Regions from separate parts of the Homo sapiens genome. Here region 2 is linked to region 1. The links come from fine-mapping of genetic effects on gene expression. Tissue or cell type: lymphoblastoid cells. Region 1 holds a variant in brackets; the other region holds the start of a gene. All regions are shown on one strand. Distances are from middle to middle.

Region 1 (7,181 bases):
ATAAATGTGTGCAGTTTATTTTATTTTGAGACAGAGTCTCATTCTGTCACCCAGGCTGGAGTGAGGTAGTGCAATTATGGCTCACTGCAGCCTTGACCTCCCAGGCTCAAGCAATCCTCCCACCTCAGCCTCTTGAGTAGTTAGGACTTCAGGCATACACCCAGCTAATATTTTAAAATTATTATTATTTTTTGCAGAGACAGCATCTCTCTATGTTGCCCAGGCTGGTTTTGAACTCCTGGGCTCAAGTGATCCTCCTGCCTTGGCCTCCCAAATTGCTGGGATTACAGGCCACTGCATCTGGCCATGTGTGTGGTTTAAATGAAGAGCATAGCACTTCTCTTTGGCAGAGACTGAGCTGAGGAGATAACAGAGCAGAACACAGGAGTACCTGTAGGGCAGGTGGCAATGGCCAGGCCACTGATTAGGCAGGTGGAGAAAGACTAAGTGGATGGTGTCTGTTGGAAAGTCCAATAGTATAGAAAAAAGTGTCAATGCAGAGACCACAGGTCTAGAGAATGAAGCCAGACTGTGAGCCTGAGGTCAAAGCAGGGAGCAGGCCAGAGATGGTGCTTGGGTGTCAAGGAAGGGCCCAAGCATTACAGTGTAGTGAGAAAAGTCTAGGCTTTGGAGTTAGGCAAACTGAGATTGAATTTTGCCTCTGCTTACTGGCCTCTCTGAGCTTTGGTTTAGTCTTTCCTAGCTGCAAAGTAGAGATAATAAAACCTACTAATTCTGGTTATGTATTGCTGTGTAACTATGTATCTCAAAATTTAATGACTTAAAACAACAGCCATGGTTTTATTTTATTTTGTTTTGTTTTGTTTTGTTTTTGAGATGGGGTATTGCTTTGTTGCCCAGGCTGGTCTCAAACTCCTGGGCTCAAAGCCATTATTTCTATATCTCACAATTCTAGGCAGGGCTCGCCTGGGAGATTCTTCCGTTCCATGTAGTATCAACGGATGTCACTTAGTGGTATTCAGCAGGCTGAGAGGCTGCTCTGGAGGGTTCAAGAGGGCATCACTCACAAGTCTGGAGCCTTAGTAGGGATGACTGGCAAGCTGGGCTCAGCTGGTACTGTCAATCAGCACACCTACACCATGACTACGTGGCATGGTGGTATTAAGGTAGCTGAACTTCCTATGTGACTCCAGAAAGCAAGGAGAAAGCAGCACAGTTTTGTTTTTTTTGTTTTGTTTTGTTTTTGTTTGTTTGTTTGTTTTGAGACAGAGTCTTGTTGTGTCACCCAGGCTGGAGTGTAATGGCATGATCTCGGCTCACTGCAACCTCCACCTCCCAGGTTCAAGTGATTCTTCTGCCTCAGCCTCCTGAGTAGTTGGAATTACAGATGCTTACCACCACGCCCGGCTAATTTTTGTATTTTTTAATAGAGACGGAGTTTCACCATGTTGACCAGGCTGGTCTCGAACTCCCAACCTCAGGTGATCCACCTGCCTCAGCCTCCCAAAGTGTGGGGCTTACAGGCGTGAGCCACTGTGCCCAGCTAGGCACAGCTTTTTATGAGCGAGCCTCTCACTGGACTCTGTTGGTGGATATATACACAGGACCAACGGGATCCAAGCAGAAGGGACATAAGCCCTACCTCTTGATGGAAAAAGCATTAAAGAATTTGCAGCCATGTTTTAAAATTGCTACACTGTCTTGTGACGATTGAGTAGACAGCGTTTAGCACAATGTCTGGCATGCAGTAGGTGCTCACAATGTTAGCATCTTTTCCTCATCTTATACCCGCAAGGAGAAGAAATGAAGTTTATGGTCTGGGATTTCACGCCAGAAGGTCCTGTATCAGTTAGGAAGTCTTAATCATAAGTAATAGAAAATATTCATAAGATGGCTTAAACAGGCCAGGCGTGGTGGCTCACACCTGTAACCCCAGCACTTTGGGAGGTCAAAGGGGGCGGATCACCTGAGGTCAGGAGTTTGAGACCAGCCTGGCCAACATGGGGAAACCCCATCTCTACTAAAAATACAAAATAAGCTGTGCATGGTGACGCGCGCCTGTAATCCCAGCTACCCGGGAGGGTGAGGCAGGAGAATTGCTCAAACCTGGGAGGCAGAGGTTGCAGTGAGCCAAGATCGTGCCACTGCACTCTAAGATGATATATTATCTCATATGACAAGAAGGTGGGAGTTAAGGCTGGACTGTGGCTCACACACCTGTAATCCCAGTGCTTTGGGAGGGTGGGGTGGGAGGATAGCTTGAGCCCAGGAAATCGAGGCTGCAGTGAGCTATGATCATGCCACTGCACTCCAGCTGGAGCAACAGAGCAAGACCCTGTCTGAAAAAAAATAAAGAAATAAGAAAAATAAGATTGGAGTTAGACTGATTCCATGGTTGGTAATTTAGCTGCCCAATCATATCTTCAAGGAATCAGGTTATTTCCCTCTTTTCATTTTGTTATCCTCAGTCTGTTTACTCATCCTCTTAGGTGAGATTCCCACCTAGGCCTAAGCTGGCCGCTGCAGTTCTGAGAGCCACATGAACATAGTAACATCCCTTAAGAAATCTATGTGAGTGCCAGGGTGGGGCTTTGGTGTTCCTTTTCATGAGCAATGAAAATGTTCTAAAAGGCTCCCCAGCAAACCTCCCCTTGCAACACATGGGTCCACATCCAAACCATTCATTTGTCAAGAAGAATGAGACCATCATGACTGGCTTAGATCCATCCAGATTTCAACCCTAGGGCCAGGGAGGAGTCCAACCTTCCTAAAAGGTTGTGATCACTTGGGGAAGGGGAACAAAGTCAGGATTCTATTACCGTGAAGATAGGAGAGAATTGCCATTGAGTAGACAGCCCACAGTGCCTCCCACAATCCCCACCATTGCTTACTCATCACACCGTTCATCCCGGACATGGCTTCACCATGTGTAGGGGGACTGAGCTTGGACATGGTCTTGGTGGGCATTAGGAGTCATTGTCTTGGAGATCGGTGATAGAGAATAGAGAATAAGGGAAAGAAGGTGCAAAGATAAGAATAGAAATCTAAATCCAAAGTATCTGGGACACTAAGTCAAAGCCAAGCCACCAGAATGAGGGCTTGAGAAGGCAAAGGTACAGCCATTTTGGAAATAGTACGGAGATAACTCAAAAAAACTAAAAAGCCACTGCCGGGCACGGTAGCTCATGCCTGTAATTCCAGCACTTTGGGAGGCCGAGGCAGGCAGATCACTTTAGGTCAGGAGTTTGAGACCAGCCTGGCCAACATGGCCAAACCCCAACTCTACTGAAAATTCAAAAAAAATAGCCAGGCGTGCTGGCGCACGCCTGTAACCTCAGCTTCTTGGGAGGCCAAGGCAGGAGAACTGCTTGAACTAGGGAGGAGGAAGTTGCAGTAAGCTGAGATCGTGCCACTGCACTCTGACCTGGGCAACAGAGCAAGAATCTGTCTCAAAACAAAAACAAAAACAAACCAAAAAACAAAAACAAAAAACACTAAAAAACTGAACTACCATTTGACCCAGCAATCCCACTTTGGGGTATATACCCAAAGGAATTAAAATCATTATGCTGAAGAGATATCTCCCCTGCCATGTTAATCAAATGTGGTATATAAACTCAGTGAAATACTATTCAGCTTTAAAAAAAACCTGGAAATTCTGTCATTTGTAGAAACATGGATGAACCTACAGGACACTATGTTAAATGAAATAAGCCAGGCACAGAATGACAAATACCACTTATGGATCTCAATTATATGCGGAATCTAAAAAAGTCAAACTCACAGAAATAGAGAGCAGAATGGTGGTTACCAGAGGCTGCGGCGGGGGTGAATGGAGAAAGAGAAGATGCTGGTCAACAGGTACAAAGCTTCAGTTAAGCAGGAGGGATAAGATCTGGTGTTCTATATACTGGATCGTGACTATAGCTACTAATAATGCACTGTAGGCCAGGCAAGATGGCTCACACCTGTAATCCTAGCACTTTGGGAGACCGAGACAGCAGATCACTTGAGGTGAGGAGTTCGAGACCAGCCCGGCCAACATGGTGAAACCCCATCTCTACTACAACTACAAAAAAAATTAGCCAGGCATGGTGGTGCATGCCTGTAGTCCCATCTACTCAGGAGCGCTGAGGCAGGAGAATCGCTTGAACCCAGGAGGTGGAGGCTAGAGTCAGCCGAGATTGTGCCACTGCACTCCAGCCTGGTTGACAGAGTGAGACTCCATCT[C/CA]AAAAAAAAAAAAAAAAAAAAATGCATGGTGTATTTCAAAATAGCTAACAGAGAGGATTTTAAATGTTCTCACCACAAAGAAATGATAAATATTTGAGTTGATAGATATGCTAATTAGCCTGATTTGCTCATTCCACAATGTATATGTGTATCAAAACATCACATTGTACTTCATATGTGTGTGTGTGTGTGTGTGTGTGTGTGTATCAATTGAAAATAAAACTTAAAAAAAAAGGTAAAGGGACCAAATGCTAGGCTGATCTTTACTTTTAGCCATGTTTTAGCTATTCTGGGGGCTAGGACAGAACTGAGATTAGTATGTAGGTAGAGTTGAGCCTATAAGTAGGAGAAATTATCTCCACCTTGAGACAAGAGAAATGTTGAAGAATGAGCAAGCCTGGCCAGGTACAGTGGCTCATGCCTATAGTGCCAGCACTTTGGGAGGCTGAGGCAGATCACTTGAGAATCACCTGAGGCCAGGAGTTCCAGACCAGCCTGGGCAATATGGTAAGACCCCCATCTCTAAAAAAATTTTTTTAAATTAGCTGGAGGGTGGTGGCACACACCTGTAGTCCTAGCTAGTCAGGAGGCTGAGGGAAGAGGATCACTCGAGCCCAGGAGTTTGAGGCTGCAGTAACCTATGATTGTGCCACTGCACTCCAGCCTGGATAGCAAAGCAAGACCCTATCTTTGAAAAATGAAAAATAATTTTAAAAAATTAGGGGCCGGGCGCGGTGGCTCACGCCTATAATCCTAGCACTTTGGGAGGCTGAGGCGGGTGGATCACCTGAGGTCAGGAGTTCCAGACCAGCCTGGCCAACATAGCAAAACCCTGTCTCTACTAAAAATACTAAAATTAGCCAGGCATGGTGGCACGCACCTGTAATCCCAGCTACTCAGGAGGCTGAGACAGGAGAATATCTTGAACCCGGGAGGCAGAGGTTGCAGTGAGCCGAGATTGCACCACTGCACTCCAGTCTGGGTGACAGAGCAAGACTCCATCTCAAAGAAAAAAAAAAAATTAAGGCTGAGGCAAGCAGATTGCTTGAGCCCAGAAGTTTCAGACAAGCCTGGGCAACATGGCAAAACCCTGTCTCTACAAAAATACAAAAAAAAAAAAAAAAAAAGAAAAAGAAAAGACTGATCATGGTGGCTCTTTCCTGTAACCCCAGCATTTTGGGAGGCTGAGGAGGGTGGATCACTTGAGGTCAGGAGTTCGAGACCACCCTGGCCAACATAGTGAAACCCTGTCTCTACTAAAAATACAAAAATTAGCCAGCCATGGTGGTGTGCACCTGTAATCCCAGGTACTTGGGAAACTGAGGCAGGAGAATCACTCGAACCCAGGAGGTGGAGGTTGCAGTGAGCTGAGATCGCAGCACTGCACTCCAGTCTGGGAAACAGAGTGAGACTCCATCACCAAAAAAGAAAAAAGAAAAATTAGCCAGGCATGATGGTGCATGCCTGTAGTCCCAGCTACTCAGCCGGCTGAGGTGGGAGGATATCTTGAGCCCAGGAGGCAGAGGCTGCAGTGAGCCAAGACCACACCACTGTATTCCAGCCTGGGCGACACAGCAAGACTCTGTCTCAAAAAAAAAAAAAAAATATATATATATATATATATATATGTATATATGTATGTGTATATATATATGTGTATATATATATGTATATATATGTATATATGTATATGTATATATATGTATATATGTATATATATGTATATGTATATATATGTATATGTATATATATGTATATATGTATATATATGTATATATGTATATATATGTATATATGTATATATGTACATATGTATATATATGTATATATGTATATATGTATATATATGTGTGTATATATGTATATATGTATATATATGTGTATATATATATGTATATATACGTATATATATATATATATATATGTCATCCCAGCACTTTGGGAGGCTGAGGCAGGTGGATCACAAGATCAGGATATCGAGACTATCCTGGCTAACACAGTGAAACCCCGTCTCTACTAAAAATACTAAAAAAATTAGCCGGGCATGGTGGCACGCGCCTGTAGTCCCAGCTACTCGGGAGGCTGAGGCAGGAGAATGGCGTGAACCCAGGAGGTGGAGCTTGCAGTGAGCTGAGATCGTGCCACTGCACTCCAGCCTGGGTGACAGAGTGAGACTCCGTCTCAAAAAAAAAAAAAAAAAAAAATCAGAAGCCTGACTTTTTTGGCCCCATTCTCTCCCTTGGAAATGGACCCTAAAATCTATGGACAGCAGCTTTCTGAGTCTTTTGGGAGACTCTGAACTAAAGTGGTAAGAATCACTTCACTGGCCCGATTACCTGCTCCCACATTGCTCCTAGAATAAAGACCCAAATCCCTAACCCAGCCTCTGAGACTTTGTGTGGCCTAGCAGGGCCTCTAAGTATGATTGTGTAGGTGTGCCCTGCACAAGAACATTTGGCTGAGAGATGAATGAGGGCTGAAATCCAGTCCTCACTCCAGTAACCAAGCATAGGCCCCACATCTTTGTTTGCCTGGAGAGATTGCCTTTTCTAGAGTCACTGGGCTTGTAGCAAGTTCTGGATCCAGCTCTTGCTCCCTTTCCATTGCCAGGTCCCAGAGGTACTTGTGCCCTTTTCCACTGGCCTTCTCAGAGTTCCCCAGACATACTGTTATCTACAGCCACCAGAGCAAACCACGTCAGTACTGAGTGGCTTGAAAGGATGATATGATATTTATTTTGCTCACAGATCTGAAATCCAGGCAGCGCTCACTCCACTTGGCATCTGCTGCAGTGGCTCAGAGGCTGGGTCTGGAGTCATCTGAAGGCCCTTTCACTCTTGTGTCTGGAGGGCAATTGGCCCTTGCCAGCTGGGACTTTTCCACGTGGCTCCATGGGTGCCTCACAGCATGGTCCTGGGTCCCAAGAAGACGAGATAGAACATTTTTAGATTTAGCCTCAGAAGTCACATGGCATCACATCTGCAGTAGGC
Region 2 (7,181 bases), 26 kb after region 1:
ATCCACCAGGTGAGACAAGACGAAGGGGCCGTGGGTGACACAGCCTGTGGCAGGCCTATTTCTGCAGTCCCCTGTCAGGCACATTCCTGTATTTCAATGGGCACCTAACACTTCACCATATCTCCCACGTGGGGAACCAACACTTAAAAGGTGATTTGTGTAAACAGAAACCTCCTTTTCATGCTCATTGATAGGGATAAACAAGGAAGCACCTCTGGAAGAGGTAACACTACTCACTTAAGTTTTAAGGTATCAGCATGTATCCAAAGAGAAGGATTTAATCAAGGGAGGGCTGAAGGAGAGGAGAAAACAGAAGAGAAGCAGCAGAAGGGCAGTGGATGAAGAGGGCGAGGTCAAAGTCAGAGAGGCCTAGGGACAGCTACTTACAGTTCAGGACCTGGACTGGCGCCAGGAATGGACTCCAAGGGGTGAGGGCCCAGCTTCTCCCTGCCTTCCTCCCAAAATATGCAGAGACCTAACTGGATTCCAAGGGATGAGGGCACAGCTTCTCCCCCCTCCCACCCATTTCCCAACATGCAGAGCCCATGGTGGCAAAATCCCCTGGCTCAGGCTAAAGTCAGAACTGGTCTGGTTTCCTGTGTTTTTCAAATCTCTGCCATTTGGGCAGAACGCTTGGTCCTATAAACCAGGAGTCATCAGTATCCACAGAGAAGTTGCCTCAGCACTTGGACCCAAGTCAACTGTGTTTAAAATTTCACACCAAATCTATAAATTACACATTCACATTGTGGGCCAGCCTACCTTTTTTTTCAAATAGTATTCAAGGTATTTTTCTTTTTTTTTCTTTTCTTTTTTTTTTTTTTTTTGAGACGGAGTCTCGCTCTGTTGGCCAGGCTGGAGTGCAGTGGCGCCATCACGGCTCACTGCAAGCTCCGCCTCCCGGGTTCACGCCATTCTCCTGCCTCAGCCTTCCGAGTAGCTGGGACTACAGGCACCCGCCACCACGCCTGGTTAATTTTTTGTATTTTTAGTAGAGACGGTGTTTCACCGTGTTAGCCAGGATGGTCTCGATCTCCTGACCTCGTGATCCGCCCGCCTTGGCCTCCCAAAGTGCTGGGATTACAGGCATGAGCCACTGCGCCCGGCTATTCAAGGTATTTTTCAATACCTTGCTGCCTGGCTACTGCAGTGCCAATTCTGCCATTCCCCCCCGCTCCTCAATTCAGGCATCACCTGAGGGACTTGCAGAGCATCAGGGATCTGGCCCCTCTGAGATCTTGCTGGTCTACTCAAGCCTTTGTACAGCACCAGGCAACGAAATTAAATGTGGGACATGCACTATCACAGAATAACTTTTTAATTGCTTAATTAAATCAGAGATTTAAGGAAGGAGAGATTCAAAAGAGTTCCCTTTGAATGAGAAAAATAAGGATATGCCAAAATGGATAAAGTTACTAATCATGGGAACAAAGCCCTTAGTATTTACATATGATAAAAATGCAGGCCAGTATAGTAAAATCAGTAAGTACATTCTTTAAAATTTCAATTCAGTATATTCCTGAGATTTTATTATACAGGTAGTACTATAAAGAACATAGAAGACCTCATTATCCAACTTAATTCAGACCAGGGTTTGATTAAAAAAATAAAAAACAAAAAACTACCACACAGGACAAAGAAATTGCCATAAAATTGAGTTCCTATAAATGTGTTCCAGTTTAAGTAACTAAGTCCCTAAAATGAGCCTTAGTAAAGTCTACGCTGCATATAGACAGACTTAGGCACATCAAGTATACAGGTGACAATTAGCAAGTGTATAAAGCTATGGTCATTTCGCTAAATGTGTAAATCTAAAGGCAACCAAGTAAAAGACCTAAAAAAGGAAACTGTTAAGTCCATTTGTACATGGATTTAACAGTGAAGCATTTCATTCTTCATGTTTTCACTTGGTGTCTTGAAATAATCCCCTTTCTGTCTCCACTCTCCCTCTTAGACACTGCACCTGCCTTATTTATTTATGAAGTCTGAAGGTTAGTCCTACCTGCTGAGACTAATTAGCCCTGTGCTTTGTATCCTATGCAATCCTGTCTGATTAAATGTACACATTTGTTTTACTTCTTTTCAGGCTCCTTCTCACTCTACTTCTGATATTCTGATTAATATCAAAGTTGGGAGTTACAGTGATTCTCCTCTGCCTCCCCCCCAACCCATTTTTATTTTGCCTGCATCTTATTCTTTAGTGTGCAAATGTGGTTGTGATTTTTTTCCAGTGCAGGGGAATTCGTTGGCCTTGTCAATCTCGGTATCATTATTTTTAGTAGTCTTTCTGAGACTTTAGCCTATAAAACAGTTTTGCTGAAACCCCAAACTCTCTAAATATTACATGGCAAATTTGCTTTCTTTTGGAAACCTCGGTGCTGATGGGCCAGCTGAAGTGCAGGTGAGCTTTTTCAGGGAAGGGTGGGACAACAGTACATCCTGGACTCTAGACTAATACTACTCCTAAGAGGCAATTTGCTAAATCCTACTGATTTATTTTTTTCTTTTTTCTCTTTTTCATGTTGTAGTGTCCAGTCTACTTCTTACTGGGTATTTGCAAAAATGAATTTTCTTGCTCTATCACCCAGGAACATTGTGTTTTGGGAGCTGGGTCTTTCCTCTTTAACATAATTCCATTCCCCATTTTGTAGCAAATCAGTCTGCTCCTCCTCTAATACCTAAAAGTCAACAAATACCTGCCTCAAGCCCCAGGTTTCCCATCTTCTCCCGAAGGTCTTCTAGCATCGGTTTGGTTAGCAATTTCCTGCCAGAGCCACCTACATCTTGATTATTTTGGTCAGTCTTTCGGGGATTTCATTTCAGACCCCCTTCGAGAAACACTGTAGCCCAACTGATCCCAGGGGTTGGTGAACTTTCAGTTTTATTTTCCCTGACGGTGTTAACGCCCAAACTTTTCACCTCCTAAGTCAAAAAGGACTTTGACTCTAGCTCATTTCCTACTACCTCCAACGTCAGTTAAAAAAAAAAAAAAAAAAGCAAAACACCACTCTACATTTAAAAGAATCATATATTTTTCCTTAAGGATACTTTTAATGTTTCTGACATTTAGCATTTGTTTTTTGCATAAAAAGTCGTTTTGGCATATCCATCCTAGTGGGACTTAACATTTCATGAAATGATTCACTACTAATAAACAAAAAAGGGAGGAGGGAGGCCTCATGGGTTAATAGTTTCTTTCATTGTAGATGACCAGGAACTTTGACCAGCCCCTTCACTTCCCCAAGCTCTCTGAAAGTGGAGGGTTGATCTTTCCTTTTGACCACTTTTGTCGCATCCCGTCTAAGGGTGGCTGATTTCACTGCTGAATTAACCACCAAGCACCCCCCCACCCCCTCCCCCAGCCACCACTTTCTCAAATACTACCCTTCCTTTTCCCCCTCCCTTAAGACTTATTTCTAATATTTCTAAAGTGCACTGTTTTGGGCCTCTCCCCATCCCCGCCCCCCAAGTGGGCTTTCCTTCCGCCTTCCTCGGCTCGGATTCCTGACTTGGTCGCCACCCCCTTCTCCTCCTCTCCCACCCCGCATTGTCTTTCTGAAACCGCCCCCTCCCGGAGCAAGTCCCTGCACCCTCGCCCAGAATCCCGGGCTCGCACACACTCCGCGCAGGCCGCTCCCCCTGCACACTCCTCCCTCCGTCTCCCCCCGGCTTCCCCGCCCCTCTCTTCCTCCTTCTTTCCCTCCTCCCTCTCCCGGCGCCCGAAAGGATCATTGTTAGCCGCCCCCGCCCCGCCCACCCCGGCTGTTTATTTATGCACACGTCACTGGGCCGGCCCCGCCCTCCGGCATCTCATTAAGGCAGTGTGTTCCTCTCGCCCTGTCAATAATCTCCGCTCCCAGACTACTCCGTTCCTCCGGATTTCGATCCCCCTTTTTCTATCTGTCAATCAGCGCCGCCTTTGAACTGAAAAGCTCTCAGTCTAACTTCAACTCACTCAAATCCGAGCGGCACGAGCACCTCCTGTATCTTCGGCTTCCCCCCCCCTTTGCTCTTTATATCTGACTTCTTGTTGTTGTTGGTGTTTTTTTTTTTTTTACCCCCCTTTTTTATTTATTATTTTTTTGCACATTGATCGGATCCTTGGGAACGAGAGAAAAAAGAAACCCAAACTCACGCGTGCAGAAGATCTCCCCCCCCTTCCCCTCCCCTCCTCCCTCTTTTCCCCTCCCCAGGAGAAAAAGACCCCCAAGCAGAAAAAAGTTCACCTTGGACTCGTCTTTTTCTTGCAATATTTTTTGGGGGGGCAAAACTTTTTGGGGGTGATTTTTTTTGGCTTTTCTTCCTCCTTCATTTTTCTTCCAAAATTGCTGCTGGTGGGTGAAAAAAAAATGCCGCAGCTGAACGGCGGTGGAGGGGATGACCTAGGCGCCAACGACGAACTGATTTCCTTCAAAGACGAGGGCGAACAGGAGGAGAAGAGCTCCGAAAACTCCTCGGCAGAGAGGGATTTAGCTGATGTCAAATCGTCTCTAGTCAATGAATCAGAAACGAATCAAAACAGCTCCTCCGATTCCGAGGTAGGAAAAGCCCCTCGGGCTGGTGGGGTTTTTTATCTGTTTCCTGGGCTTGGCAAATGTTGCTGAAAGGGGAGAAATCGGGGCTGGGGGCGGCGGCGGGGCCCGGCGGGCGGCGTGTGCGTACGGTGCCACCATTGCAAAAACTTGTAACCCTGTTTTTTTCTACCCCCCCCTCGACCTCGCCGATTCTTTTTCTCCCCCTTCTCCCCCTTCTGCGTGGCGTTTGCCCCTCGCCCTCCCCACCTCCACCCCTCTGGGAAGGCGGAAAGACGGCCTCCGCCTCGCTCCGAAAGTTTCCGAGACAAATCCCGGGAAAGTTTGGAAGAAGGTGAGTACGCCCCGCGCGCCCCGCAGCCGCCCGGAGCCGCCCCCCGGGCCGGCCGCCCCGCGCGCCCCGGCCCCGCGCCCGGCTCGGCCTGGCCCTGCGCCGGCCCGGTCGGGGCGCCCGGCCCCTCGGGGCACTTTCTAAAAAGTTTCTCCTCACTCTCTCCCGCTCCGCGCGGCCGCCGCTGTCCCCTCGCCGCCCCGCCATGTTAGCGGCCAAGAGGCAAGATGGAGGGCTCTTTAAGGGGCCACCGTATCCCGGCTACCCCTTCATCATGATCCCCGACCTGACGAGCCCCTACCTCCCCAACGGATCGCTCTCGCCCACCGCCCGAACCGTAAGTGCCTCCGCGCCCGGCCCCCGCCCGCTGCCCGCCCGCCCGCGCCGCCCGCCGGGCCCCGCATGCGGCCCCTGCCCTGCCCCCTCCCCGCCTCCCCCTCCCCGCCTCCTCCCCTCCCTCCCTCCCCTCCCCCGCTCGTGGCCCAGGAGGCCCGAAACTCTCCAAACTTTTCTGCCTTTTGTGGACTGGATTTGTTTGCACTTCGCCACGTTCTTGCTTTCAGTTTGCTGCCTCGTGATGTTGGGGAGACCTCTCTGTCCAAGCAGGGCTTTGTTGGTGGGGAGGGGGGGGAATCCGAAGAACTTTCCTTTGCGTTCTGGTTCCCCCTCCCCCTTTGGTGGTGGTGTTTGTTTCTTCACCCTGGGAAGATGACTCTGTGGCTCTTCCTTTGCTCTCTCTCCCTCTCTCTCCTTCTCTTCCTTCCCTCTTCTGTGGCGTCTTGGGCTTTCCCCGGTTAACCCCTTGGCTGCCGCTGCGGGCCACGAGTGACTGACTGTGCTGCGCCCGATGCGCGGGGTAGAGAGTGGGTTTCCTCCAGGCATTGGACTTGAGAACTGGCTAGCGCGCAGAGCCCGGGGCCCTGGAGAGGCTCCTTGGCTTTCTCTTTTGGGCGACTATGTATTTAGCTTTCTAGTGGAGATTGCTGGCTCTCGGCCCTCCTTCCCCCTTCCCCTGGAAGGTCACACTTCCCAGATTGGTCCCACCGCAAACTTGGGGGCTCTGAGGCGTCCTTTTCTTTGGCAACCCGCAGGGCCGCGAGCGCCCTGGGCGCCGTGGCGGGCTCCGCTGCCCGGCGCACTGGCTGCGGGCTCTCCCGGGCCGCGCAGGGCAGCAGGGCTGAGTGGGGCGGGGAGGCCCCTGCGGCCCGGATTCTTGGTTTGTGTGCAGCCGGAATGGACTCCTCCAAGCGGACTTGTGTATTTCTAGGGAATTTTGGCGCCTTGGGATGTATGGCGGGGTCGGCGCTCGCCAGCTTCCGTGTAGGCCCGTCGTGGGCCCCAGGGGGGCCAGAGACCAGGGTGTGCGGGCTCAAGGAGGTGCGGGGGCCGAGGGAGGCTGGGGCGCCTCTCCTTCAAGGGAGTGGGCCGCCGATCGCCGGCCACCCAACTTTGGGGGCCCCAGGGCAGCGCGGGGTGCCGGGCTCGGGGGGCGCTTCCTGCAGGGTCGGTCCCGCGCCCAACCCTGACATTTGTTAATACGGCTCATCCCCTCCCCCACCGGCCTGTGCCCCCTGCCCTCACCCTGAACCCCCTCCTCCTCATCCCTCCCTCCCTCTTCTAAGAAGCCTGGATTACGAATCCCTGGACGCAAGACGCATTTGTGCCCGGCTTCCCGGTATTGTCATTTTACACCTTCTCCAGTTTGGTCCCCTACCCCTTATTTACACACACGACTTTTGTTTTTTCTTTTTCGGTAACTCTAGATAGCAATTTGAAATAATGCACCCACTGTTCAGCAGCCATGGATTCGGTGCTAATGGCCGAGGGCTTGCCGGACGGGAGTCGATCAGATCTACAAGTGTTTTTAAGCATTAAAATATTAACTATCAGGTTTGACTTGCTTTTTTGGGCCCTGGCAAAATGGCAAGGGCATGCTAGACCGGTCATTTTTTTTATGGCTAGGGAAGAGAAATAATTATTCCCCCCCTGCCCGGCGCCCAGACATGCTTGGGAAGCTGGGAGAGCGGTTCGGCTCAACCCCCTTCTCCAGGGCCAGTTCCACCAGGCTGCAGGGGCCGCGCTCTGGGCTTGCAGCTGTAGGGGAAGCACAGTTCGCTTACTTTGTATTTTTCTTGGGAGCTTGTGGGGCATCTTAAACGGGACCGTTCGGCTCAGAATCGCAGTGTTCGCCTACCAATAAACCGGACCAAGCAACATTCCAAAGAATCCCTGAGAATTTCTGCCTCTCCTCCCCTCCCCCTTCCGATGGAAACCTCCCTGGTATTATTTTAAAATCCACTTAACCATCTGAATATTGA

The links. PIP is the estimated chance that this variant, and not a neighbour inherited with it, causes the effect.
Region 2: it holds the start of TCF7L2, and the variant in region 1 is fine-mapped to the expression of TCF7L2 in lymphoblastoid cells (TwinsUK, PIP 0.95).

Annotation. Positions count from the first base shown.
Region 1 is chr10:112,920,191-112,927,371 of GRCh38, forward strand. LINC02935 (long intergenic non-protein coding RNA 2935) reads left to right here. Exons shown (of 3, transcript XR_001747706.2): 3 at 6,939-7,181. Among named protein-coding and RNA genes, the nearest start is that of TCF7L2, 26 kb to the right of the region's middle. The variant C/CA (reference allele first, on the strand shown) is at 4,192.
Region 2 is chr10:112,946,408-112,953,588 of GRCh38, forward strand. It overlaps TCF7L2 (transcription factor 7 like 2), which reads left to right and starts at 3,840. Exons shown (of 15, transcript NM_001367943.1): 1 at 3,840-4,538; 2 at 4,800-4,866; 3 at 5,076-5,200. The coding sequence starts at 4,350. LOC124902502 (a long non-coding RNA gene) reads right to left here and starts at 5,935. Exons shown (of 2, transcript XR_007062291.1): 1 at 5,371-5,935; 2 at 4,222-4,600.